7 linked regions of the Homo sapiens genome follow. The protein of the gene in region 1 purifies or fractionates together with the protein of each later gene. This does not show direct contact. Each region holds a gene or a part of one and is shown in the gene's direction. Other genes may lie near its edges.

Region 1 (3,500 bases):
ATCTTGCCCTTGCCTGTAAATTGGATTATGATGAAGATGCTAGTGCAATGCTGAAAGAAGTTCAACCTAGGGTATGTCAAAGTAGAGAAAGGGAAAGTCATTAGTTAAATACTCCATCGCTGTAGTGCTTAGCCCCCGACAGCTGTAATTCATCTGAAAAACAGGCAAAGAAACAAACCATTGGAAGATATAATCTGTAATTGCTGAAGTTTGTGCTCGACTCTGGAGATCTCATTAGGTTTTCATGCTTTCATTTCTCATGCATTATTAGAGCAAACTCTGTTACTTTGTTTGGAAGCCTGCAGTGGAATTATAACCAGAAAATTAGAAAAGGGGGTATCAGGTTTACAACAAGGAAACAAATAGAAAATCTATAATTAGCATTACCCAGGATTGAATCTGATGTGTCCTTATTTATCATAGGTGTGTACAACCACTTTATAAAGCAAGAAGACCTTGTGGAAGTTAAGAAGTTTCAGGCTTTCCGGCCAGGCGCGGTGGCTCATGCCTGTAATCCCAGCACTTTGGGAGGCCGAGGCAGGTGGATCATGAGGTCAGGAGTTCAAGACCAGCCTGGCCAACGTAGTGAAACCCTGTCTCTACTAAAAGTACAAAAAGTTAGCCAGGTGTGGTGGCATGCGCCTACGTAGTCCCAGCTACTCGGGAGGCTGAGGCAGGAGAATCACTTGAACCTGGGAGGTGGAAGGTTGCAGTGAGCCAAGATCACGCCACAGCACTCCAGCCTGGGTGACAGAGCGAGGCTGTCTTAATAAAACAAAGAAGTTTCAATCTTTTAAAAATAATAATATTGAATCCCAAAAGTAGAACATTCCAGCTTTTAAGGATGATTTTTATCTAAAATTGTTGGTTAAAATAATTTTAATGTGTTTACATGGTAAATCCTTCATTTTGTGGGAAGTTCAGCTGTCAAGAATTTACTCTCAGAGATTTTAAGATAGTGGGAATTGTATTGAATTTAATTATTTACTGCCAGAGAGTTCATTTGGTTTTCTGTTTTCTTCTTAAAATAGGGCAAAGTTGTAACTTTGTCAGCAAAGTGTAAACAAGCTAAAGTGACAGTTGAATATGAATCTCTTAAATGTATTTTATTCTCTGAGGAAATAACATCCAGAGCATTTATTTGATACTAGTGTCTGGTATACATATTTACATTTTTCCCTCTTAATCCCTATAGCAATTTGATAATATTAAATATTTCTTCCTCTCCCATTTTATGGATACAGAAACTTAAATATACTGTGGCATATACTTGGGGTATGAGTTCCCAGTCTCTGCCTTCCCACGGCAGACATCCGTAATAATACTCTTCCTACTGAATTCAGCTGTCCGTCTGAAACCTAAACACTGTGTATCTGATAGAAACTAGCAGGCAAGAATTGTCATGCACTTAGAAACCTGTTTGTTAATCTTTGAGCTTAATTGTTTGAGATTATAACATTTCTAACTTCAAATCCCAGGCCCCTTTACTCTGTTTTACAGTGCCTCATGCAGTTGAGGTTGGTTTTCTTAAAGGCTTAGCTTGTGTTAGGTCTTTTTGTACAAGACAAATCTGTCATTTTTCTGAACTGCATGTTGAATTAAACATCTCTCTACAAAGAATATTTGTGTTGATGTTATTCAGCTTTTGGAGCAAGCTTATTTTGCTATGGCTCTTTTTTCTAGGCACAGAAAATTGCAGAACATCGGAGAAAGTATGAGCGAAAACGTGAAGAGCGAGAGATCAAAGAAAGAATAGAACGAGTTAAGAAGGCTCGAGAAGAGCATGAGAGAGCCCAGAGGGTAAATTTCCTATAGCTAAGCCATGAAAGGAAAATACGGCAAATTATGTAGAGGCATTAGGACACTAAAATTTTAATTCCTGGCTCTTTTATTTAATGCTGGCTACAGTTCTATAGAGTAATGATATTACTTATGGGGAGTCTCCTTTCACTGTATCTAATTTGGGGGACATTTTTAGTCTTAAATTATTCAGTGAGCTTTTATTTCACCATTTTATATTCTTGTTTGTGTTTTTATAAAATCAGTTGTTTTTCCAGGTCAAGTAATTGAAATGTGACAGTATTATTGTTTGATCTTTTGAGGATGCTTCGCCAGATTAATTAAATTTATGATTCCTCCTCTCTTCCAACAGTGGATGTGTTGCTATTTAAAAATGATTCTAGCAGGGCAAGGTGGCAAGTGCCTATAGTCCCAGCTCTTGGGAGGCTGTGGTGGGAGGTTCACTTGAGCCCAGGAGTTCGAGACTAGCCTGGGCAACATAGTGTGATGCTACAATAATTCACCTACTTATTTCTAACATTATTGAATGAAAGAACATGAAAGAACCTAAGGCTGTATTATATAATATGTTACATTCTAATTTTTTGTCCATTTAATATTAAGCATCATACTTGATTTTAAGGTTATAGTTTATAATCTTTAAAAGTAATTTATCTCCTTGATATTTAAAAGCAATATATCTCCTCAATAATTTTAAAACTACATATGAGGGATATTTATTTTTTGTTCATTTTCTCTTTTAAAAAGCAGCAAAAACAAATCAATAAATCTACATTTGTATTATGTAGGGAGAATAACGGAAAAGATGTACCTAGGAAACAAAAGTCATGGTAGTCTTGGTAATCTAGCCATGTCCTTCCCTATGGGTGTTTTAAAGCCAGGATGAATTTAGAGTTTTCATATTAGTACTATAAATTGTTTTCCAGGTTTACTTGTTTCCAGAGTAGAAGTAAAACACTTTACTTGAAATTACTACCAAGAATAATGCCCACTGAGAATCCAGTTTGGAAAAAATGTTTGAAGGGGGTATGAAGTATATCCTTCAGTTCAGTATTGCCATCTACTAGGTTATTTTACAATTTTTTCATGGTCTTGCATGGACAGGTTGCATGGACAGCACTTATTTCTTCTTCTATTATATAATTTATTTCCTTTTGTATCAAAGGAGGAAGAAGCCAGACGACAGTCAGGAGCTCAGTATGGCTCTTTTCCAGGTATATTTAAAGAAAAGTTAAAACTGTTTTGTTCTATTATACAGTGATATTTTAATATAATACTTAATATTTATTATAAAGTGATATTCTGATTTTGTTCTCTTATACAGTGATATTCATGAAGAACCTAGGTAAAAGAAATGATGGAATTATTAGGCATAAAAATGATGTTTTTTGTACAGTGTAAAAATAGCGTATTTTTCTTTCAAATGTGATCAGAAATTGCTAGTGAGGCAAATCTTTGAATACCAGAGGACAGGACTAACACAGAGATAGAAGAGACGGAAAAGGCACGCAGAAGATTTATTGAGTACTTCCTGATTACGACAGTGTGGAATTTATATAAAGACCAGGACAAGACTTAATTTTTTGTTTTTTAAACAACTGTCTCCAGTTGTTTAATGGTAACTAGCTTTCTCTTAAGGAAAGTTTTTAGAGGCTACGTATGCTTATATGTCACTGGTTAGAACTTAGTTGCATGATCCG
Region 2 (4,151 bases), on another chromosome or scaffold:
GCGGTCCCTCCCATCCAGGAGCTTACAGCCCATGTAGGGAGGGCTGTAAGGGCTCAGTACTGAGCCCCTAGCACAAAGGCCCTGTCCTTAGAAGGCCCTAGTCAGTATTTATTCGCTGAACGGATTCCACCTCCTGCATATCATACAATTGTCTGGGCAGCCATAAAGAGCTTCATTGTGCTTTAGGTGAGTGATCTCAGGCAAGTCACCTGCCCTCTGCATAGTTTCCTTCTCTGTACACCCACCATGGAGCTTCCTACTTTATCAACCTCATAGGTTTAAGAATAAAATAGGATCCTACTTAAGGCAGAGGTGCTGAAAGCAAACTGCATCCTTATTCCTGTATCCCTGGGGTTGAAATTAGCGGTAGCTCCTGTGTCTGGGGCATGTGAGCAGATACTCTTGCTGGGCTCTTTGACCACAGGAGTCTCCCAGAAGCAGGGCTTTATTTTATGTCTCACACAGAGAGGAGTGGCCCAGACCTGCCTCAGGAAGCCTCCATTTGCCCATGGCATAGGACACACCCCATGTTCCTCACTGCTCCATTCTCCTGGGTCCTAGCAGTGACCGTCATGCGTGCCTGTTTTGCATACCTCCCAAACCGAGGTGTAACCTGGGCAGCTTCTAGACACACTGCAAAGCAGGTCATTTAATGTATGACTGTGCAGGAGACTCAGTTTAAAGGAGCTTCAGACGGAAGTGACAGTGGTTGCCAATGACCTTTGACTTATCTCACAGCTCTCCCTTGAGCACCCACTGAATGCCCAGGTATTGGGGACACAGCAGTGCCTAAACACAGAATGTGGTGGTGTGGGGGTAGGGGGCGGCCTTCCCAGAGCACACAGTGTTGGAATGAGACAGAAATAATATGTAACTACAAACTGTCCTCAGAATGGTGAAGAATTTGAACAGGTGCCTGACACAGAATACCAGGAGGGGCCTGACTCTGGGTTGAGTGGGCAGGAAAGCACTCTCTGTGGAGGAGACTTTAAGCTGAGACATGAAGAATGGAGAAGAGGTGTTGTCCTGGAGGGGTGGCAGGAGCTGCAGAAGAGCCACTACAGGCTTAAGGGCCAGTCATCTGAGGAAAGAAAGTTCTAGACATGGGGAGAGGGGAGTGTGCTGGGAGCTGAGGTTGGGTGGGGAGGCGGAGCGGATTGTGAGAGGCTTGTGGGCTGTGTAAAGAGTTCCTGAAGTCTTTCTTTTGCTTTCTGGGTCAGGGCTTGGGTGCAGTGCCCGGGTGGTGTCCTTGAACTGTGAGATGAGACACCTCACTGGACACCTAGCCTGGCTTGCCAGGAGACCGGGGTGGGGGCGCCTCCTTCCAGGGCTGAACCGGAAGTGGAGGAGAGCTGCAATGGCCTTCCCATGCCCAGAAGCTGCAGGAGCAGACAATGGGGTTGGCAAGCTCTGGGTAGGGTACAGGCCGCACAGGTCTGAGGGCAAGATGCAAATGTCACTTTCAGTACCAAGAAAAACGAGGCAATAATCTAGAGTCCTGGGCTGAACGTGGACAGCTCCCGAATCATCAGGTGGGTGGGGATTAGGACAAAATCGTGTATCCTGGGGAGATGGAGGGAAACAGAACTGTGTATTGGTGTGCTAATGTCTCAGTGCTTGGTACAACCCTGGCAACTCTGCCAGGCCGTATTCTTGTTTTATGTACAAAGAAACCGAGGCAGGCTGCATGCTCAAGGTCATGGGATGCAGGCACGACAGGTTTTCTGAACTCAGAACTGACTCAGATTTGCCAGTCGGTTTGGACTTCTCACCCACTCTGAAGATCACAAAAGAAAGAAAGGTCAGGAAGCTCTTAGTGCCTGGTGAATACTGGATGGTAAATGCTCACAGGTCTGGAAGGGAGGAAGGGTTCCCCCCAAACGGTGGGTCTGGTCTGTTCCGGGCTTCACAGGAGACCAAGCAGAGAATAAGACAGTGCGGAGCAGGATGGAGGGCTCAGGGGTCTTCCCTGCAGAGGTTCCTGGGGGCGTGGCAGGGCTGTGGCTGACAGGGTGCTTCCTACGGTTTTTTCCAGGCCCAGAGGCCTTTGGGCCAAAGGCAGCCCCGCCGGTCCTTCTTTGAATCCTTCATCCGGACCCTCATCATCACGTGTGTGGCCCTGGCTGTGGTCCTGTCCTCGGTCTCCATTTGTGATGGGCACTGGCTCCTGGCTGAGGACCGCCTCTTCGGGCTCTGGCACTTCTGCACCACCACCAACCAGACGATCTGCTTCAGAGACCTGGGCCAGGCCCATGTGCCCGGGCTGGCCGTGGGCATGGGCCTGGTACGCAGCGTGGGCGCCTTGGCCGTGGTGGCCGCCATTTTTGGCCTGGAGTTCCTCATGGTGTCCCAGTTGTGCGAGGACAAACACTCACAGTGCAAGTGGGTCATGGGTTCCATCCTCCTCCTGGTGTCTTTCGTCCTCTCCTCCGGCGGGCTCCTGGGTTTTGTGATCCTCCTCAGGAACCAAGTCACACTCATCGGCTTCACCCTAATGTTTTGGTGCGAATTCACTGCCTCCTTCCTCCTCTTCCTGAACGCCATCAGCGGCCTTCACATCAACAGCATCACCCATCCCTGGGAATGACCGTGGAAATTTTAGGCCCCCTCCAGGGACATCAGATTCCACAAGAAAATATGGTCAAAATGGGACTTTTCCAGCATGTGGCCTCTGGTGGGGCTGGGTTGGACAAGGGCCTTGAAACGGCTGCCTGTTTGCCGATAACTTGTGGGTGGTCAGCCAGAAATGGCCCGGGGGCCTCTGCACCTGGTCTGCAGGGCCAGAGGCCAGGAGGGTGCCTCAGTGCCACCAACTGCACAGGCTTAGCCAGATGTTGATTTTAGAGGAAGAAAAAAACATTTTAAAACTCCTTCTTGAATTTTCTTCCCTGGACTGGAATACAGTTGGAAGCACAGGGGTAACTGGTACCTGAGCTAGCTGCACAGCCAAGGATAGTTCATGCCTGTTTCATTGACACGTGCTGGGATAGGGGCTGCAGAATCCCTGGGGCTCCCAGGGTTGTTAAGAATGGATCATTCTTCCAGCTAAGGGTCCAATCAGTGCCTAGGACTTTCTTCCACCAGCTCAAAGGGCCTTCGTATGTATGTCCCTGGCTTCAGCTTTGGTCATGCCAAAGAGGCAGAGTTCAGGATTCCCTCAGAATGCCCTGCACACAGTAGGTTTCCAAACCATTTGACTCGGTTTGCCTCCCTGCCCGTTGTTTAAACCTTACAAACCCTGGATAACCCCATCTTCTAGCAGCTGGCTGTGCCTCTGGGAGCTCTGCCTATCAGAACCCTACCTTAAGGTGGGTTTCCTTCCGAGAAGAGTTCTTGAGCAAGCTCTCCCAGGAGGGCCCACCTGACTGCTAATACACAGCCCTCCCCAAGGCCCGTGTGTGCATGTGTCTGTCTTTTGTGAGGGTTAGACAGCCTCAGGGCACCATTTTTAATCCCAGAACACATTTCAAAGAGCACGTATCTAGACCTGCTGGACTCTGCAGGGGGTGAGGGGGAACAGCGAGAGCTTGGGTAATGATTAACACCCATGCTGGGGATGCATGGAGGTGAAGGGGGCCAGGAACCAGTGGAGATTTCCATCCTTGCCAGCACGTCTGTACTTCTGTTCATTAAAGTGCTCCCTTTCTAGTCCTTTTTCTGCCCAGAAGTAGGTGATGTTATTGCCCTCAGCCCATTTCATTCTACACTGACTCCTTCCCATTCCCTCACCTGTTGAATTCTGGCTCCCAGCAATTGCATGGGTTTTTGGTCTCTGCCCCGGTCTTGTCACTGCTGCAGGTTCCTTTCCTGGTCTGGGCTGAGTGCCTATACCTACGTCTATTGTGATGTTTTAAATTTTTTATTCCAGGATGCATGGAGTCATGAAGCTGTCTGCTTTGTAGGATATAAGGCCATGGGCTTTAAGGTTGAACCACCAAGGTGCCCAGAGTCCATGGAGATCATCCTGGAAAGGTTTCCATGAATTGCTCAGTTTTACAGAGTACAGAGCTCATCAACCACACTGGCGGCATCTTAGCCTGGGAAATGGGAACCTGGAGCAATCTACAAGTTGCAAAGGGGATGTGTAACCCCCTGGTTTCTTCACGGGGAGGGGATGTATGGAGGTGGGGAGTCAGGGCCCAGAGAGGGAT
Region 3 (3,500 bases), on another chromosome or scaffold:
TTCAAGCGATTCTCCTGCCTCAGCCTCCCGAGCAGCTGGGATTACAGGTGCCTGCTATGACGCCTGGCTAATTTTTGTATTTTTAGTAGAGACGGGGTTTCACCATCTTGGCCAGGCTGGTCTTGAACTCCTGACCTCAGGTGATCCGCCCGCCTCAGCCTCCCAAAGTGCTGGGATTACAGGCGTGAGCCACTGCGTCCAGCCTCTGCTGATCATTTTTTAATAGAAATGGAGTGACTTCACCAGAGTCACACAGCCAGTTTGTAGAAGTATTGGCACTGAAGTTTTGAATCTAAATTCTTTATCTTTGCTCCAATCCAGGGAAAGAAAGGAAGGATTCCCTGTTTCAGGGGTGGAGCATAGATAGGAATGACCACAGAATTTATTGCCTAATCAGGACACTCAAAATGCAGTGAAGGGAAGTGCTATTATTATTATTTATTTATTTATTTATTTATTTATTTATTTTTGAGATGGAGTCTCGCTGTGTCACCCAGGCTGGAGTGCAGTGGCGTGATCATGGCTCATTGCAAGCTCCGCCTCCCGGGTTCACGCCATTCTCCTGCCTCAATCTCCCAAGTAGCTGGGACTACAGGCGCCCGAAACCATGCCCAGCTAACTTTTTGGATTTTTAGTAGAGACGGGGTTTCACTGTGTTACCCAGGATGGTCTCGATTTCCTGACCTTGTGATCCGCCCGCCTCGGCCTGGGATTACAGGCGTGAGCCACCGTGCCCGTCGTATGATTATGATGATGATGATGATTATTATTAGAAATGGAATCTCACTATGTCACCCAGGCTACAGTGCAGTGGTGCAATCTCAGCTCACTGCAATCTCCACCTCTCGAGTTCAAGCGATTCTCCGGCCTCAGTATCCCAAGTAGTTGGGATTACAAGCTTGAGCCACCATGCCCGGCTAATTTTTGTGTCTTTAGTAGAGACGAGGTTTCACCATGTTGGCCAGGCTGGTCTCAAACCTGATCGCAAGTGATATGCCCACTTCAGCCTCCCAAAGTGCTGGGATTACACTTTGAATCCTAAGCGCCTGGCCAGAGAATGCTATTGTTAATTGTACCTGGATGATAAAGCTTTTCCTTTGAGTAACTCAAGTGAGAAATCCTGGCTCTTCCAGTCCTAGGGCTCTCTGTGACTGATCTGCCAGCTTGCTTTCTGCCTCCTTCTGGACTCCTCTCCATGAAAAAGGGAGAATCTGCCTCACTCTCAGCAGCGTCAACTGAAAATCTGACAAAACCCCCAACCCAGCTGTGTGAGGTGGCTCATGCCTGTAATTCCAGCACTTTGGGAGGCTAAGGAAGGAGGATCTCTTGAGCCCAGGAATTTGGGCCAGCCTGGGTAACATAGCAAAACCTTGTCTCTACAGAAACATCAAAAAATTAACGGGACTTGGTGGCACGTGTCTGTGGTCCCAGCTACTCAGGAGGCTGAAGTGGGAGGATTGCATGAGCCCAGGAGGTCAGGGCTGCAGTGAGCCATGATTGCACCACTGCACTCCAACCTGGGTGAGAGAGCAAGACCCCCATCTCAAAAAAAAAAAAAAAAAAAACCACCCTAACCCCTAAGCCCCAGTTGGGTGACCCCTATTTCTCAGGGGCCCCAAGCCCCCTTTGCACTTTTATCTTCCACATCTGGAAATAGATTCTTCCACATTTAGCTGAGAAATTCAACAGACACTGGTTGAATAAGTCATAGAAGCCAGATGTTCTGACCCAGAAATAACGAAGTTGTTATGGCAGCAGAGCTCATCTTTGATTATGAACAAAGGCAAAAAGCAAACAAACAAAGGAGGCCTGGCATGGTGGCTCACGCCTGTAATCCCAGCACTTTGGGAGACCAAGGCGGGCAGATTACCTGAGGTCAGAAGTTCGAGACCAGCCTGGCCAACATGGTGAAACCCCGTCTCTACTAAAAATACAAAAAATTAGCCGGGTGTGGTGGCGGGCGCCTGTAGTCCCAGCTACTCGGGAGGCTGAGGCAGGAGAATGGCGTGAACCCAGGAGGCAGAGCTTGCAGCGAGCCGAGATTGCACCACTGCACCCCAACCTGGGCAACAAAGCAAGACTCCATCTCAAAAAAAAAAAAAAAGAAAAAGCCAGGTGTGGTGGCTCACACCTGTAATCCCAGCACTTTGGGAGGCCGAGGCGGATGGATCACAAGGTCAGGAGTTCGAGACCAGCCTAACCGACGTGGTGAAACCCCGGCTCTACTAAATACAAAAATTAGCCAGGCATGGTGGCACGCAGCTATAATCCCAGCTACTCAGGAGGCTGAGGCAGAAGAATCGCTAGAACCCGGGAGGCAGAGGTTGCAGTGAGCTGAGATTGTGCCACTGCACTCCAACCTGGGTGACAGAGCGAGACTCTGTTTCAAAAAAAAAAAAAGAAAAAAAAAATGGCCAGGCACAGTGGCTTACCCCTGTAATCCCAGCATTTTGGGAGACCAAGGCAGGTGGATCATCTGAGGTCAGGAGTTTGAGACCAGCCTGGCCAATGTGGTGAAACCCTGTCTCTACTAAAAATACAAAAGTTAGCCAGGCTTGGTGGCAGGTGCCTGTAGTCCCAGCTATTTGGGAGGCTGAGGCAGGAGAAGCGCTTGAACCCGGGAGATGGAAATTGCAGTGAGCCCAGATTGCGCCATTGCACTCCAGCCTGGGCGACAGAGCAAGACTGTCTCAAAAAAACAACAACAAAAAAGCAGGAAGCAGACTTTTTAGCTAGTTCAGCTATACTAATTGTGTACATGTCTTTAGTCTTATCATTTATATATATATATATATATATATACACACAAACACACAGTGGAGGTATGTCTTGCACAGGGACTAGCTTGTGAAGTTAGCGCAGAGAGATAACATGGGACACAGTTGAGTTGCCTTGACATTGCTCAGAAGGTTAGGTACACACGTCATGTGTACAGCTGTGTCCTGTACTCATAGCTATGAGTTCCTGCTGTATTGGTGATTTGTGTCCCATGTATAATTCTAAAGAAAGATTATATTTAGAGATGAAATCATACACGTATGTCTCTACTTATAACACTGCAGCCAGATTTTTTTTTTTTTTTTTAAAGAGATAGGGTGTCACTATGTTGCCCAGACTGGACTTGAACTCCTGGGCTTAAGCAGTCCTCCCACCTCAGCTTCCTAAGTAGCTGGAACCACAGGTGCACATCACCATGCCTGGGCACTTCAGCAAATTTAAGATGATTCTCGACTGGGCATAGTGGCTCATGCCTGTAATCCCAGCACTTTGGGAGGCCAAGGCAGGCGGATCACAAGGTCAGGAGATCGAGACCATCTTGGCTAACACAGTGAAACCCCGTCTCTACTAAAAATAGAAAAAAAAATTAGCCGGGCGTGGTGGGGGGTGCCTGTAGTCCCAGCTGATTAGGAGGCTGAGGCACAAGAATGGCATGAACCCGGGAGGCGGAGCTTGCAGTGAGCCGAGATCGTGCCACTGCACTCTAGTCTGGGCAACAGAGT
Region 4 (3,500 bases), on another chromosome or scaffold:
ATATATGATTCCATCTAATAGTAGCCTTGCTAGTCTTGATGCAGGGTCATTTTTTATTTCTGTTTTATTATGCATAAACCTGCACAGAGGGGTAAAGTAACTTGCTTAAAGATAGGCAAATAGTAAGTGACACAAATAGGAAATTGGTTCCATGCTTGCAAATCCTAAAACCATGCGCTTTTCCCAGGTAAGGGATAGCAGATGTGTGCTGTGAGTCCCAAATCTCATCTCTATTTAATCGTGACAGTCCTTCCCATGGAGCCTAAGTGTGGCCTCAAAATCTCCACATGTCAATTATGTGTACAACTCTGGGGGTCATTCTCTTTATTGTAGTCCATAAATAGTATCCATTAGAGTTGTACAGTGCATAAACTATATAACCGTACACGATAGCCTTGTTTTTATGTTGCTGCTTCTAAGTGATAGGAGTTGGTACACAATTTATTTCATCAATCTAGGCCCAAGCACACACTGGATCCAGTAATACCCACACAGTAAAAATACTTAAATATTTATCGTTCACATTGATACATGCTATTAATCAGATTAAACATGTACAAGACATAGAGACCAGTATTTGACTGGTAAATCTTTATAGGTACGTTTAAAATTATATTGATGTCATGTTGGTACAGTTATTCCTATCATTAGATATTTTGTTTGCATTTTTCAAATGGATAAAGTAAAATATTAATTTAATAAAATATATAAAGGCCATGAAGAAATGGGGGGAGTGTGGCAGATAAAAGAGACAGCTGGATGTGTCTGATAGATCATTTCTGAGCCACCATTGGTCTTTGCTTTAGGAGCCCAGCAAGCTGGAAGCTAATTATACCTTAATGACTAAGTATGCATGTAAATTTTGCCTATAAACATGTGATAAAATTTTCTATGTAAAACAGGTCATTTCCAGCTGACATTTAAAAAATTTTCATTTTAAACTTTCTGTACTCATAAGAACTCATCACTATATTTTGCTGTAGCTGTTTAATGAATCTATTGTCCTTTTTAAATTGAGAAATTAGTTTTAAAAGATCCCACTTTCATGAGATGCTCAAATGAGCATGCTTTCATGACTCAGTTTTTCTATCCTTTTCTTTAATAATTAAAGTTAATTTAAAATTGGTATCAATTTCAGAGTTGCTGAAGCTAGAAATTATTATCAGGTTGATTTTTTTAAAGGTCATTTTCAAGCCCGTCAGTGGCTAACTAAAAATAACTTCTCAAAACAACATAACTATTGCCTCTTAGTTATATCTTGACATTTAATCTTAAGGCTTTAAAAACATTATCAATAAGAGAATACATGGGTAATCATCTATTGTGCCTGATGAATTTCTTTCCCTTTGGTATGAAGTGGAAATAATGTATTAACAAAGACTTTTTACTCAGGGATTTTAGTGAGTGTGTTCTGTAATATTTTCCTTCATGAACTTGACCATTGAACATAATTTGGGTAAATGAAAGTAATATGTCTTTTTTTTCTATTTTTCACACACAGGGTATAATGCAAGATGTCCAATTACTTGTCATGCCCCAGGGATTTATTGCTCAGTGCCCAGATCTTAATCGCAGTAAGTCTATTAGTTCTTGCACTGTGGAGTCCCCATATATTACTTGTCAGCATAGACTTAACCAGATTGAACCCCTTATAAATGCATCTTGACCAAATGTAGTGTTTGTAATTCCAGCCTGTCCAACTTGCAATGACTTCCATGGACTTGTGCAGAAAATCATGGAGCTACAGGATATTTTAGCCAAAACATCAGCCAAGGTAAAAGCTACTCAAGAATACAGTGTGGAAGCTTAAAAATCCTTGATGTTCCCAATACTTCCATTTATAACCATAGATTTTCACCTTCGAGGCTCTTCTTATACTATACTGTTTGCTAGGACTGAATCTAAATCTCTGCTTAAGGAAAGGCTTATAAATATTAAAACCCTAGCCATCTGTATAACAAATAATTCAGTAAATCAGGAATGAGGCAGATTACCTAATTTATACACTGCTTACTACAGGAGGATTTATTGTTTAGCTTTTATTATTATTTATTTTTATTCAGTTTTTCATTACAAGCAAGGAGGCAGTAGGACAGTGTAAAGAATATAGACACCAGAATTGTATCAAAGAAATGGTCCCATAAATGCTTTCTACCACTATGTTACAGTTCTAGGATTATTTACTAATATCTTAAGCATATGTCAGGTTTACCTACAATTTCACTAGACTTGTAATTTTGTATAGTAGTTACAGAATACCTGATGGTTGTGTTGTATGGTGTATGATTTGTTTCTTATACAACATAAATTCTGAATTTTATTTTTTTACTTGAAGAAGCATATAAATGAAATTAAACATTTTTCTTTTAAATGGAAAGTGCTTCTCTGCATTTGAGTGATGTTTTGAATTAACCTTTGATTTATGTCTTATAAATTATGTTGTTTGTTTCTAAGGCAGGGAGCAAATTTATCACAAAAAGAAGAGGAGAGAAAAAAACATTCTTTTAAATTAAATTAAAGTCTTAAATATGTTTATGGCAAGTGGTTGATAAGCACAGCCATCATCATTGCTACATACTTTAAAAAAAAGATACCTGCGGAGTGTTTCACATTTCTGTGTTGCTGGAAGGATGAACAATGTAAAACCCGTTCTTTTGTGCCACAGCTGTCTCGAGCTGAACAGCGAATGAATAGATTGGATCAGTGCTATTGTGAAAGGACTTGCACCATGAAGGGAACCACCTACCGAGAATTTGAGTCCTGGATAGACGGCTGTAAGAACTGCACATGCCTGGTATGGCTTCTATTTGAGTTGAGACTAAGGGAACTCAGATGCTCCCACTCTTTAAAAATTTATTAAAACAATGTAATCATGAAAATTTCAAGACCCATTTCCTCAAGACACAACACTAAAGTGTCAACAAACCTGGTCATATCTAAAGAACTGTGTTGCATTATTAAAAACACTTTCTAGCTTCTAAAGATGATTATGGTTTAGGAATGCTATAAAGTTTAAGTTTATTGGTACACACATGAAGTTAGCAATTTAAATTAGGTAAAGTGATTCCTAAAGAAGACTATCCTCTTATCCTTAACATTTCCAGAGATTTTTCTCCCTTGTGTTTTCATGAATGCATTTTCATGAAACTAAGTCATATGCAGCATTAAATATTGTGTCCAGATTGAGCAATATAAGCAAATTAGATAGAGTTTAAATGATTGGGACAATCTAATAGTTTATTAATACAGTGGAATACAAATTATAAAGTTTAAATAAATGTGATTTTGCTAATTGCTCGCTAATGAAGTAGAATATTTTATTGCATTATGATTTCAGAAATATATGTTCATTTTCAAAGAAAAGTTCAAAGAGTTTGGTTTTAAACTTTTAAATTACACATGAACTCATCTGTTAAAGCTGGTTTTCTGGAAAGAAGTCAGACATCTATGTGAATTAGGCTTTTAAAAAAATTTCTCAAAGTTCATCCAGTTTATTCAAA
Region 5 (3,500 bases), on another chromosome or scaffold:
GAGAAGCCAATTTTAAAGCCAGTAAGTGGCTAAGTGGACATTAAAAGGGTCTTTGATGTCATCTGGTAATGTAATTACTGAATATGAAATAATGCTTTGGTTTTTTAACCCTAGACTTGGAATGGAAAATTATCTATGTGGGCTCTGCAGAAAGTGAAGAATACGATCAAGTTTTAGACTCTGTTTTAGTGGGTCCTGTTCCCGCAGGAAGGCATATGTTTGTATTTCAGGTAAGATTAATCTTGGTAAATGTGTATGCCAAATATGTTTCGAAGTAGACTATATTATCTATTATCTTATAACCCTTATCCCTTTCCTTTTGGGTTAAAGAACTGCTTCTGCTGCATTCACTTTAAATCTGTTTCCATCATGTTTTAGGCAGTCTCTGTGTCACAGAGGAACTCTTACTTCCTGGTTTTATATGCTGAGAGATGTTAATGTGACGTTTACTTTAGAGAGATGAACAACCTACAGTAAATTTTATACTGTATCATGGCACACAGGGTGGTGAATTTGGGGCTCTTCCTGTGAATAGCACCTCAGTATCAGACTTCCAAGGTGGCTGTCTAGCAACCCAAAACATGGATTCAAAATATCTAAAACTAACTGGCATTGTTAGTAATATGCATCTTCAGTTTATGGTTTCAGCCACTGGAACTGATGGTGATGTAACAAAAACAACTTTATTTCAGCATAATCAGTAGTTGAGCTAGGTTAACAGATACGTTTAGTGGATAGAGATGTGTGGTCTTGGGTCATTGGAATGACATTCCAGAGTTTACTAAAGCATCTTATAATCTACATTATCTTATAAGAGGACTACTTTTGCAAATTTACTACCCCACTAGGTATTTGTGAAGAGAATTTCTAGTAATAAAAATTTTGTTCTTAGATACCACTGAGAGTATTTGGATCTATACCAAGGCTTCAGACATTGTCTTCTATATTCAAAAGTGTTATTTCTTTTAATCCATGTTAAATTGCTATATGGAACCATTCAGTTATTCCTCAATTATGCATGCTTATTTATAAGGGAGATGTTTGTAATAGACCAAAGAGTAACTAGCCATAGGTTTTTTAAAACTACTATTAATTTCTGTTACAAGTATTTCAACCCAGCAATGTCCCATCAGTTAAGTGGAACTCACTGAAAAGACTTAATCCAGAAAGAAAATCTAACTCTTCCTATGCCTGACCTCTGTTTTCTCACTTCACAGATGGGACCAATTTAAATGAATACCATTGGTCAAATAATCCCATCAGAAACTGGCAAAGAATCACTTAGACACATGCCATCTCTAGAGCTGCTACCTTTCCCTCCCCTGTCCTAAATACAGAATTTAGAATCTTGGTTTCCTAGCCTTAGTACTTTTGATTAAAAAGCAACAAATAATTTACTGTATCTAAAGAAATAGCTAAGAAAAGCTCAAATATACTAATCAAATATATGAATTAAAAGTGCTGTTAATCAAAGTTGTGTGAGTGCATAACCATGTAAAAGACATGGGTAACAGAATGCCCTGTTCTGTAGAAGGAAGCACTGCAGTTATAGATATAGGTCAAATCCCGACACCTCTGTATTAGCCATGTGTGGCTTTACCTCTCTAACCTCCTCCCTTAGTCATTCCAGTCTTCTATAAAATGTGGATAATATTCTATCTCATTAAAATGTTATGGGGAATAAAACAGTATAATCAGTCACTCATAAAGAGTGCCCTATTCCTAAAATTAGAACTACATTTTTATTCTCTTAACTTCTTGAAATTGTTATATAAAAAAGCAGGACTTGCTCTGACCCACAGGCCTAAGGAACCCATACTTTACTGATAATTCATGATACAGTAAAAGAAACCTGGGTTGACAGGTACTGATAATACTTTTTTTTTTTTTTTTTTGGCTACTATAAGAACTTACAAATAAATGCCTTGTTATTGAAACAAACCCTTGAAAATCTTTTGTGTTTGTTATTAAGCATACTCCTAAGCTTTTGGCTGAAAGTGCTGTAGCAAAAAAAATGTATTCAAAAGTATTTCCTGCTGGTGATCTTCACGTAGTTTTACCTTGGTGTCAGTGTACATGTTGCCAAAAAGAACAGAGGAGGTACAATGTATATTCAGCCTAAAGGTTTTACAGAATTCACCATTATCAACAGAAAGAGACTAAATTACAGCTTTTGTTTTGTATTTTAAAACTACTATAGTAATCTCTTGGTCTGCCATGATTTTGCCTCTCTAAATAGTTAAACATGTCTTTCTTCTGAGTGAGTCAAAGGCTAGCAGGAAGATGTCCAGACATCTGCCTAGTATTGCCAGCTAGAGTCAAAACAAAGATCTCTGCTCATTACTTCTGCATCCTAAATTATTTGAAAGGCCTGTAAGCTTCTCTACTTAAATTTGCTCAAACTGAATCTTTTTCAAATTGTAAAATGCTTTTTAAAAGATGTTTTATATTTACAACAGATTTTAAAACAGAAACATGCCTAGAACCAATTTACTGAAGGGAACCAATTTACTGAAGGGAAGGGGAAGAGTTCTCATAGCAGTACTGAACTATTATATATTTCCCATCTCCACCCACTTCAGGTATATTAGAATCCGTTTGGGTACACTGAAAGTAATCTAACCCCTCTGTGCAGGGGTGTGTAGAATCTCTAAGACAAACAGCATATTCTCCAGGACAAGGCTGGCTGTCCCCTATCCTGGTGTCTTGCCAAGAGATCATAAACCCCTTCAGGGCAGGAACTGATTTACAAATGAATTCCAAAATACTAAGTGCTCAGAGCTGAGCCACACGAGATTATAAAGATGAACTGGATGGGACTCCTGCCCTGGATAAAGCATAGCATCTAGAAGAGAAGACTGAAAAATAAACATGTTTAGATCACAGGGCATACGTTCTTAGATAATTTGTGACAAGAAATATCAGCACATAAAAAAGGAATCTATTGATTCTACCTTCTGAGTTAGAAAGGGCGTCACTGAGAATACACTCGATGTAAGCTCCAAAAAAGATTAAAAGATGAATTTTTCAGGATGTGAGCGAAGGACCTTTCAGGCCAAGGGAACAGTATGTTAGAAGCACAGGGGGTGAAGTATTTCTTTTTTAAATTTGTTTTTGTAGAGATGGGGTTTCGCCATGTGGCCCAGGATAATCTCAAATTCCTGGGCTCAAGTGATCCACCCACCTTAGCCTCCCAAAGTGCTAGGATTACAGGCGTGAGCCACCGTGCTCAGAGCGTGAAAAGATTATCACCACGTTTTAAAGAACCTGTGTGATTCATATCTCTAGAACAATGGTGGAGTTAAAGGAGGTATGAATGGAGATATTGGCTGGAGACAAACTGAGAAGGGCCTTGTCAATGAAGTTAAAGAACTGAGATTTTATCCCTTAGAAAAGGGAATACTCTTCTGAGGGTTTTAATAATCTGAGGTTTTAAAACCAAAGAGAAAGAACATATCTGTGTTAATGCTGGTAGCAGTGCAAATGATAGGCTAGAGCTG
Region 6 (3,500 bases), on another chromosome or scaffold:
TATCTCAAAAATAAATAAATAAATAAATAAATAAATAAATAAATAGCTATTTTTTACCTTCAGATCAATGGAAAGCCACTGGACTGTTCTAAGTATGGTGATCAGATTCATGTTTATGTAGAGGATGAATTGGAGGGTAAAGGTGATGGGCAGTTGGTATGGGCAGTCTTGTTGTATTAGAACTGCAATAACAAATTAAATTCAAAATCTCAGTGACTTAACACAGTAAAGATTTGTCTCTGTCACGCAGAGTCCAGAAGGGTTGGGCAGCCTTCTCCTATCATGAAGTATGCTTACCAAGGTCATCTTGGTGGGAGAAAACAGAGCTTTAAGATCACTTTTATTTAACTTTTATTTAATTTTTGATGTTTTAAAAATCATTTTATTGTGGTAGGATTCACATCTAAAAAGCTGTATTTAGTGTATTTAAAGATCACTTTTAAAGGGCCAGGACTGGAAGTAGTTTACATAACTGGGCCCAGCTTGGCTGTTCAGAACTCAAATGGCTGTTCAGAACTCAGTCATACAGCCAACTCAGCTTGCCAGGAAGGCTGGGGAATGCAGTCTTTCCTGTTCAGCCAAGAAGAGAAAACAGTATGATGTATACATATCCTAATCTCCCTCCTCTGCAGCCACTTGAGGAGTTACTGCAGTCCAAGTAAGAGGCAATGGAAGCTTGGACTGAGGGTGAAATGAGATGAATGTATCAGAGAAAGATGAAAATCCAAAGAGTAAGATAATGGAGGAGTTGCTAAGAACATCTCTTAGGCTTGGAGCCTTATGTGACTAGGAGGGTGGTGATAGCTACTGAGAAAGGAAGACTGGTTAGAAATGGACCAGCTTGTTTTTTATTTTAGACATGTTGTGCATCACATGCCTTTGAGACACACAACTGGAGATGTGAGATAGGAAGTTGAATGTAAAGACTAGAAGCTCAGAAGAGCAGAAGTCTGAACTAAGTTTTGGCTTAGATGATTGAAAGCTTGAGCTTGGGTAAACTCTCTGAGGAAGAATGCAGAGTTCGTCCTTTCCTTCCACACTGCCATCAGCCTCTGCTTTCCACTGCATTGTCCTACCACCCTCACCCCTTGACCTCAGCTGACCTTTTGGAGGTCCCCAGAGCCCTTTTTCTTGTCCTTAGGTAGTTCCTTTTGGAACTCCCCGTCATAGCTGTTCTGAATTGTTAGTAGTAGTAGATTGGAGGAGTGCCCTCAAACCCATCCTACTCCTCCTGCCTTATACTTCACAGAGAAAATAGAATCTTTCAGACACAATTTTTGGCAGTGTATCTTCCTTCCACCTCAAAACTGTCATTTTCCCTTCCTCCCTGTTTCAGAGAAAAAAATGTGTATCTTTTTCTTAGGCTAACTCTCCCATCTGTGCTGTGGATCTTACCCATTTCTTTAGATCTCTGATATTGTTAATTTTATGAGTGATTAAGATTATCTCCTCTGGAATTGCTTGAACCCAGGAGGCAGAGGTTGCAGTGAGCCGAGATGGTGCCATTGCACTCCAGCCTGGATGACAAGAGCGAACGTCCATCTGGAAAAAAAAAAAAAATCTCCTCTGGAGCCAAATTGCCAGAGTTCAAATCCCAATTCCTCTATTGTTTACTCTGTGACCCTGGGCAAATTATTTAATTTTGCTATGCATCTTTAAGATGCAAATAGTGATAGTAGCTGTCTCATAGAATTGTTGTGATTTAGAAGTGTCTAGCAATAGTAAGTACTCAGTGTATGTTTTAATTTTTTTTTAATGTTTTGGCTCTTCCTCTTTATTCCTTCAAGTTCTTAAATATCTAGAACAGTTACATCTCCCCAATCATAAGACAACTTGCATGAAGTACCATTCAATCTTCCCTTTTTTCTTCATTGTTAACCATCTTATGTTTTCTGTCTTTACCTCTTCAATTCCCCATGGGTCCCCAGTCCATTATGGTTGACTTCTGTCCCATTTCTCCCATCTGTTGAAATGTTCAGAGGCCCAATTGCCAAGCCCAGCGATCTGTTTTCATTCTCTGAAATACTGCAGAATTGGCTGTTGATGACTTTCCTCCTCAAAATATTCTCCCTTGCTTCTAAGATGCTGCTTTCTTCCTTCTTTTTCTTCTTAGTTTTCTGATTACCTCTTTTTAGTGTCCTTGATGGGTTTCTCTTTTTAATTTTTACGTACTCAGTGGTGAGAAACTAGATTGGTTTTTCTTTTGCTGCTTAATGTTGGTGACCCCATGGTGTGGGCTAGTCCAAAATATGGATTAGGTGAAGCCTTCCAACGAGATCCGTGCTCATATTTCTGCCACTGTCTGGTCATCTCCACCTAGATGTCTTGCACAGTCTTCAGAGTGGATGTGTCGTACTGTGCCATATTTCCTTTTCTGTTCATATATTGCAGTCTAGTCACTAATCGAGAGAATCCTGGGGCTTCTCTGATACCACTCTTTTGTGTCTCATTCAGCTATATTGGTTTGACTTTGACATGTCCTTGAATTTTTCTGTTTTTAACCTCACTGCTGTAGTTCAGAGCTTTCTTCTCTGAATATTTGTAATTGTGTCAAAATTGGTTTTCTGCTTCCAGTTTCTGTGCCAGTTTCTCCTTCAAGTATTCAGTGTTAATTTCCTCAAGCACAAGTGTCTAATGGTATAAGAAACCTCCACAGACATCACTTCTGATAGAAAAAAAGACAAAATTCTTCCTTACTGAGGCTTTTAAGGAGCTTGTAAGTTACAGCCAGATTTGGCTGAGATTTATCTGTTTTATAATTGCAGAATGCACATTTACTTTGTTTTTGATTACTAGTACATCATTGATTTAATTTACAAATCAGAATTTAGAATGTTTGAGATGCTTAGATATTGATTGATGTATTTAAAGATTGGTTGATTGAATATAAGGCTTTAGATGTTGCCTTCCTGCTTTTAGAAATTGCTTGTTGGGTCAAATGTGACTTCAACATTATGGACTAGGGAGTTAGAGGGATTGGGATCTGTTTCTAGTTCTTCAATTTTTGTTGCTTTGAACATTTTATTCATCTGTTGCAAAATGGAGATTCTTAACTTGCTTAACATAAGATACGTTGTAAAGATCAGAAATATGCTACTCCTAAAGCAGTAAAAGGTTTAAGAAAAGTGCTTTTTAAAATTAGGAATGTGGTAATATTGTGTACTTATGAGTTTTCTAGTCCTAATTTTCTGTTTCTGCCACTTTATTAGAGTGAATGTTCATTTATGAACAGAAAATGTGGAGTAGATGGCATTGGAGTGTGTTATTTAGAGATCTTTAATGAATGAGATGATGAAATAGCCCAGTTACCTTAATATTAAGTAAATGCTAGGATCTTAGTGTATCTTTCTCCCAGGATTCTTGCATGTGTTTTAAAGTGACAACTTTATTTTTATTTGTTTGTATAAATGTATGGGGGTACAAGTGTAATTTTGCTACATGCATGGATGGTAGCAGTGAAGCCAGATCTTTTAGGGTATCCATCACCCGAATAACATACA
Region 7 (3,500 bases), on another chromosome or scaffold:
CAATTCTATTACTTCCTTCAGAAAGTAGGGAAAGGGGATGGTTGGCCGTAGAAATCCAGAATTTGCTACTGGGACTATTCCTTACAGCCGTGTCAAATCACTTTCCCCCTTCCCTAAGGAACAGTATTTGAAGGAATCCGGGAGACTAGGAAATGCTTTGTCTCTTTCCTGTTTGTGTGTCTGAGTCCAGTGTTTTTGGTGAGGGGGAGACACAGCTGTCTAAAATTAAATAGAACAACGATGCTCAGTCTTTCTTTTTTCCCCCACTGCTGCGTGAATGGAGGCAGATTTTATAAAAAATAAAATTTAAATTCTAGTTGTAGTTGAATGTTACCAAAAAATTTAACCCCAGAGGTCAGCCTTAATTATACCTCTTCCTGAAAGTAATGCTCTTCTTATAGAAAGTCTCTCAATATGTGGCCCTTGGAATGAATGTAGGATTTGTTTGGGTATATGAGGTTTGACTATGGCTTTAAAAAGTGTAGTGTGTTTTTTCCCCATATCAAGTTTGACCAAATATTCGTCTGTTCCCAAGCTTCGTTTGTGCTGTGTTGCCCTGTCCAGTCCTTTGGGACTGAAGTAAAAATCTCCATTCTGTGGGTCATCTTTGCCTTTTAATTCTATAATGTTCTTATCGTCAGTTCAGCTCTTAGCTTAAGTTTTTCAATTTCCGTCATTCTCCTTTAAAATCATAGCTAAGTCAAGTAATGCTCTTAGATCATTTAGTTCAAGGTTCAGAAAGACAGTCACTTACCCAAAGGCATATAGGTAAAGCCAGACCGGGGACTTGAAGCAAAGCTTTTCTGACTTCTCCAATGAGTGCTTCTCGATTATGCTACACTGGCCCCTCTTGGTGTCACTGTGGTTTTAGTTATCATCTTAATATATTTCAGACCAATCCTTAAGCTATTTTGTGTTTTTTTCCCTCTGAATGTATAACTTCCTATTTCAATATATTAAGCAACCAAAAAACAGACAATGCCTGTGTTCCTGAAGAAGGTCCTTCGAAACTAACCTAAGAGGTGAGGGTTCTCTTATCCTATTTCCCTATCTTGCATTTAACTGAAGCGCTTGAATAGAGGATAGTATGTCTTTAAACCCTAATCATAAAGTCAAGCAAGGAGTAAACTTGAATGTAATACTGTCTTAAGCTTACTCTGGAATTTGTACCTGTTTTTCTGTTTCTCTCCTTTGTTTTTGAACTTTGGGAAAGGACAGCTTCCTTTAGAAGGTGAAAGAGGATGGTGGAGTTGAGCCATTAAGGGTAGGATAGCTGCAAACTAGTTCCGGGACAGCAACATTAAGGATTGATGAAATGTTTACATTATCTTTATTCAGTTAGTTCTTTAAGTTCCATGAGCCATTGAAATAGGAAGAGTCTTTCTACATGTACTTTTTATCTGACTTATTAATCTTGCCCTTCTTTAAATGTTTTCGTTTAAATAGCAAAAGATGTTACAATATGTACTATTGTGCTGACATACCGGGGAATTTTTTTTTTACAAGACCATTTTTCATTATGAATTTGTACCATGTGTCAGCACCTTTTTTTTTTTTTTGGTTAAAACAAAACATACAAATCATATTTCTGATCTTGACCCTCATTTTTAGATTGGGTTTAGAATCATTCTGCACCTTTAATGAAAAACTGTTCTTACTTCCTATTTCCAGAACTGAAATCAAATATAGACCTACTATTCAAAACTTTGAAAATGTTTTAAACTGATGGGTTATTCTTTTATGGGGGTTTTCCCCTTGTCCTCCTGAAATAATCTCTTATGACTACTTGACTACAGAAAAATCAGTTCAAGCATTTATATTTTAGAAGCGTTACCCTGTAGAGTTTCTGCCGTCGGTTGAGACTGCTTGCACTCAAGAGGCACTGTGGCTCTGTGAGTCTCACCTCCCTGTATCGTGGCTGATAAACATCAGACAGATTGTGAGGACTCCTTTGGTGTCCATTCTGATCGAAATCCATTATTAACTCAAGCCATCTGTAAAAAGTATCTCACCATAACATGCAATTCTCTCTTCATGTTGCCTTTTATTTGAGAAATGATGTACCAAGGCATCACCATGTCTCCTTTAATAGAAAGATAATGAAGAAGGAAACCTTCTCCAAACAACTTTGTTCACTTCACTCCTTTTAAAAATGGGGTGATTGCCGGGCGCGGTGGCTCACGCCTGTAATCCCAGCACTTTGGGAGGCTGAGGACAGCAGATCACCTGAGGTCAGGAGTTCAAGACCAGCCTAGCCAACATGGTGAAACCCCATCTCTACTAAAAATACAAAAATTAGCCGGGCGTGGTGGTGGGCGCCTGTAATCCCAGCTACCTGAGAGGCTGAGGTAGGAGAATCGCTTGAACCTGGGAGGTGGAGTGAGCCGAGATCGTGCCATTGCACTCCAGCCCAGGCAACGAGAGTGAAACTCTGTTTCAAAATAAATAAGTAAATAAATGCCATTGCACTCCAGCCCAGGCAACAAGAGCAAAACCCTGTTTCTAAATAAATAAAATAAAATAAAAATGAGGTGATTGCAGGCTGAAGGTCTTGGTCACTACTGAGTTCTAGTTCTCTCAAGACAAATATTCATATGGTCAAAACAGAATTATAATCTAACGAGTCATTCTTATAGAGTGGGATTCGGGGAGGGAAAACAGATAGCTAGTAATTTAAATGATCTTAATGTAATTTGGGGAGAGGATGATCAGATGACATTTAGACTTGGATATAGTTTCTGCTTCAAACCCACGCTGTGTGTGTCTGTTTGCATACTCTCTAAAGAAGGAATTTGAAAAAAAAAAAAAAAAACAAACCTATATTGTCCTTGTTATCAGCCTTCCATTAAGCGCTCCAACTCAACCCATCCTAAGCTGTCAAATCTCCTTCATTGTGTAAAATTGAAAAGAAGCCCTGTGTTTTGTCCGGAAGCTGTGGAAACTGTGGACGGCGGGGTGTGTTCTGTAACTGAGGCCACAGACAGAAACAAATCTGCTCAAGTGGTGGAGGGGTCTGCACCGCACATAAAGAGCTTCTGTGGGAGCAGGTGAAGCAAGGAGGTATTGAAGCCGGGTGTCCTCTTGCTGTTGAGTTTATAGAAGGCACAGAGCGGCCTGTCCCCAGCAGTAATTCTTTAGGACCCTGGTCAGTTCCAGTGAAGTTTCCTTCTTGAGTTAGGTGAACACATTCTTTGTCTTTTTAGCACTGTGAAGTTTAAGCTACACACCAAGTTCCTCCTTAGTATTTGCTTGGTTCAAAGATAAACTGTTACAAACTATGGGTCAGGGAGATGGGTAGTCTAAGATGCACATTCTGGATCTTTCTAGGACCAGAGGGAGACTTAGTACTTGGTTTTTTCACTTCCCTTTAAAAACAATCCTGGTTCCTGTTCCCCCTCCAAAGTTACCTGGACAAGCACCATAGTCTTAGAGTTTCAGCTTTTATGGCGTCTGTGTCTCAGACGTGCATTTGAGATGAAGATGTTTACTGTATATTAGAA

What was found.
Region 2: the proteins of ST13 (region 1) and TMEM37 fractionate together in Homo sapiens (co-fractionation; one large-scale study listed by BioGRID). This does not show direct contact.
Region 3: the proteins of ST13 (region 1) and ASF1B fractionate together in Homo sapiens (co-fractionation; one large-scale study listed by BioGRID). This does not show direct contact.
Region 4: the proteins of ST13 (region 1) and NELL2 purify together in Homo sapiens (affinity purification with mass spectrometry; one large-scale study listed by BioGRID and IntAct). This does not show direct contact.
Region 5: the proteins of ST13 (region 1) and ASF1A fractionate together in Homo sapiens (co-fractionation; one large-scale study listed by BioGRID). This does not show direct contact.
Region 6: the proteins of ST13 (region 1) and DSTN fractionate together in Homo sapiens (co-fractionation; one large-scale study listed by BioGRID). This does not show direct contact.
Region 7: the proteins of ST13 (region 1) and PRDM1 purify together in Homo sapiens (affinity purification with mass spectrometry; one large-scale study listed by BioGRID and IntAct). This does not show direct contact.

What each region holds. Positions count from the first base shown.
Region 1 is NC_000022.11:40,829,140-40,832,639, reverse strand, and holds part of ST13 (hsc70-interacting protein), read left to right. Parts: coding exon 1-71; intron 72-1,683; coding exon 1,684-1,800; intron 1,801-2,965; coding exon 2,966-3,014; intron 3,015-3,500. UniProt on the Homo sapiens protein: One HIP oligomer binds the ATPase domains of at least two HSC70 molecules dependent on activation of the HSC70 ATPase by HSP40. Stabilizes the ADP state of HSC70 that has a high affinity for substrate protein.
Region 2 is NC_000002.12:119,434,854-119,439,004, forward strand, and holds the end of TMEM37 (voltage-dependent calcium channel gamma-like subunit), read left to right. Parts: intron 1-1,437; exon of another isoform or gene 1,438-1,532; intron 1,533-2,035; coding exon 2,036-2,587; 3' UTR 2,588-3,651; downstream 3,652-4,151. UniProt on the Homo sapiens protein: Thought to stabilize the calcium channel in an inactivated (closed) state. Modulates calcium current when coexpressed with CACNA1G.
Region 3 is NC_000019.10:14,130,090-14,133,589, reverse strand, and holds part of ASF1B (histone chaperone ASF1B), read left to right. Parts: intron 1-3,500. UniProt on the Homo sapiens protein: Histone chaperone that facilitates histone deposition and histone exchange and removal during nucleosome assembly and disassembly. Cooperates with chromatin assembly factor 1 (CAF-1) to promote replication-dependent chromatin assembly.
Region 4 is NC_000012.12:44,775,316-44,778,815, reverse strand, and holds part of NELL2 (protein kinase C-binding protein NELL2 isoform b precursor), read left to right. Parts: intron 1-1,501; coding exon 1,502-1,574; intron 1,575-1,691; coding exon 1,692-1,774; intron 1,775-2,665; coding exon 2,666-2,794; intron 2,795-3,500. UniProt on the Homo sapiens protein: Plays multiple roles in neural tissues, regulates neuronal proliferation, survival, differentiation, polarization, as well as axon guidance and synaptic functions.
Region 5 is NC_000006.12:118,900,652-118,904,151, forward strand, and holds part of ASF1A (histone chaperone ASF1A), read left to right. Parts: intron 1-114; coding exon 115-230; intron 231-3,500. UniProt on the Homo sapiens protein: Histone chaperone that facilitates histone deposition and histone exchange and removal during nucleosome assembly and disassembly.
Region 6 is NC_000020.11:17,594,075-17,597,574, forward strand, and holds part of DSTN (destrin), read left to right. Parts: intron 1-3,500. UniProt on the Homo sapiens protein: Actin-depolymerizing protein. Severs actin filaments (F-actin) and binds to actin monomers (G-actin). Acts in a pH-independent manner.
Region 7 is NC_000006.12:106,089,336-106,092,835, forward strand, and holds part of PRDM1 (PR domain zinc finger protein 1), read left to right. Parts: intron 1-3,500. UniProt on the Homo sapiens protein: Transcription factor that mediates a transcriptional program in various innate and adaptive immune tissue-resident lymphocyte T cell types such as tissue-resident memory T (Trm), natural killer (trNK) and natural killer T (NKT) cells and negatively regulates gene expression of proteins that promote the egress of tissue-resident T-cell populations from non-lymphoid organs.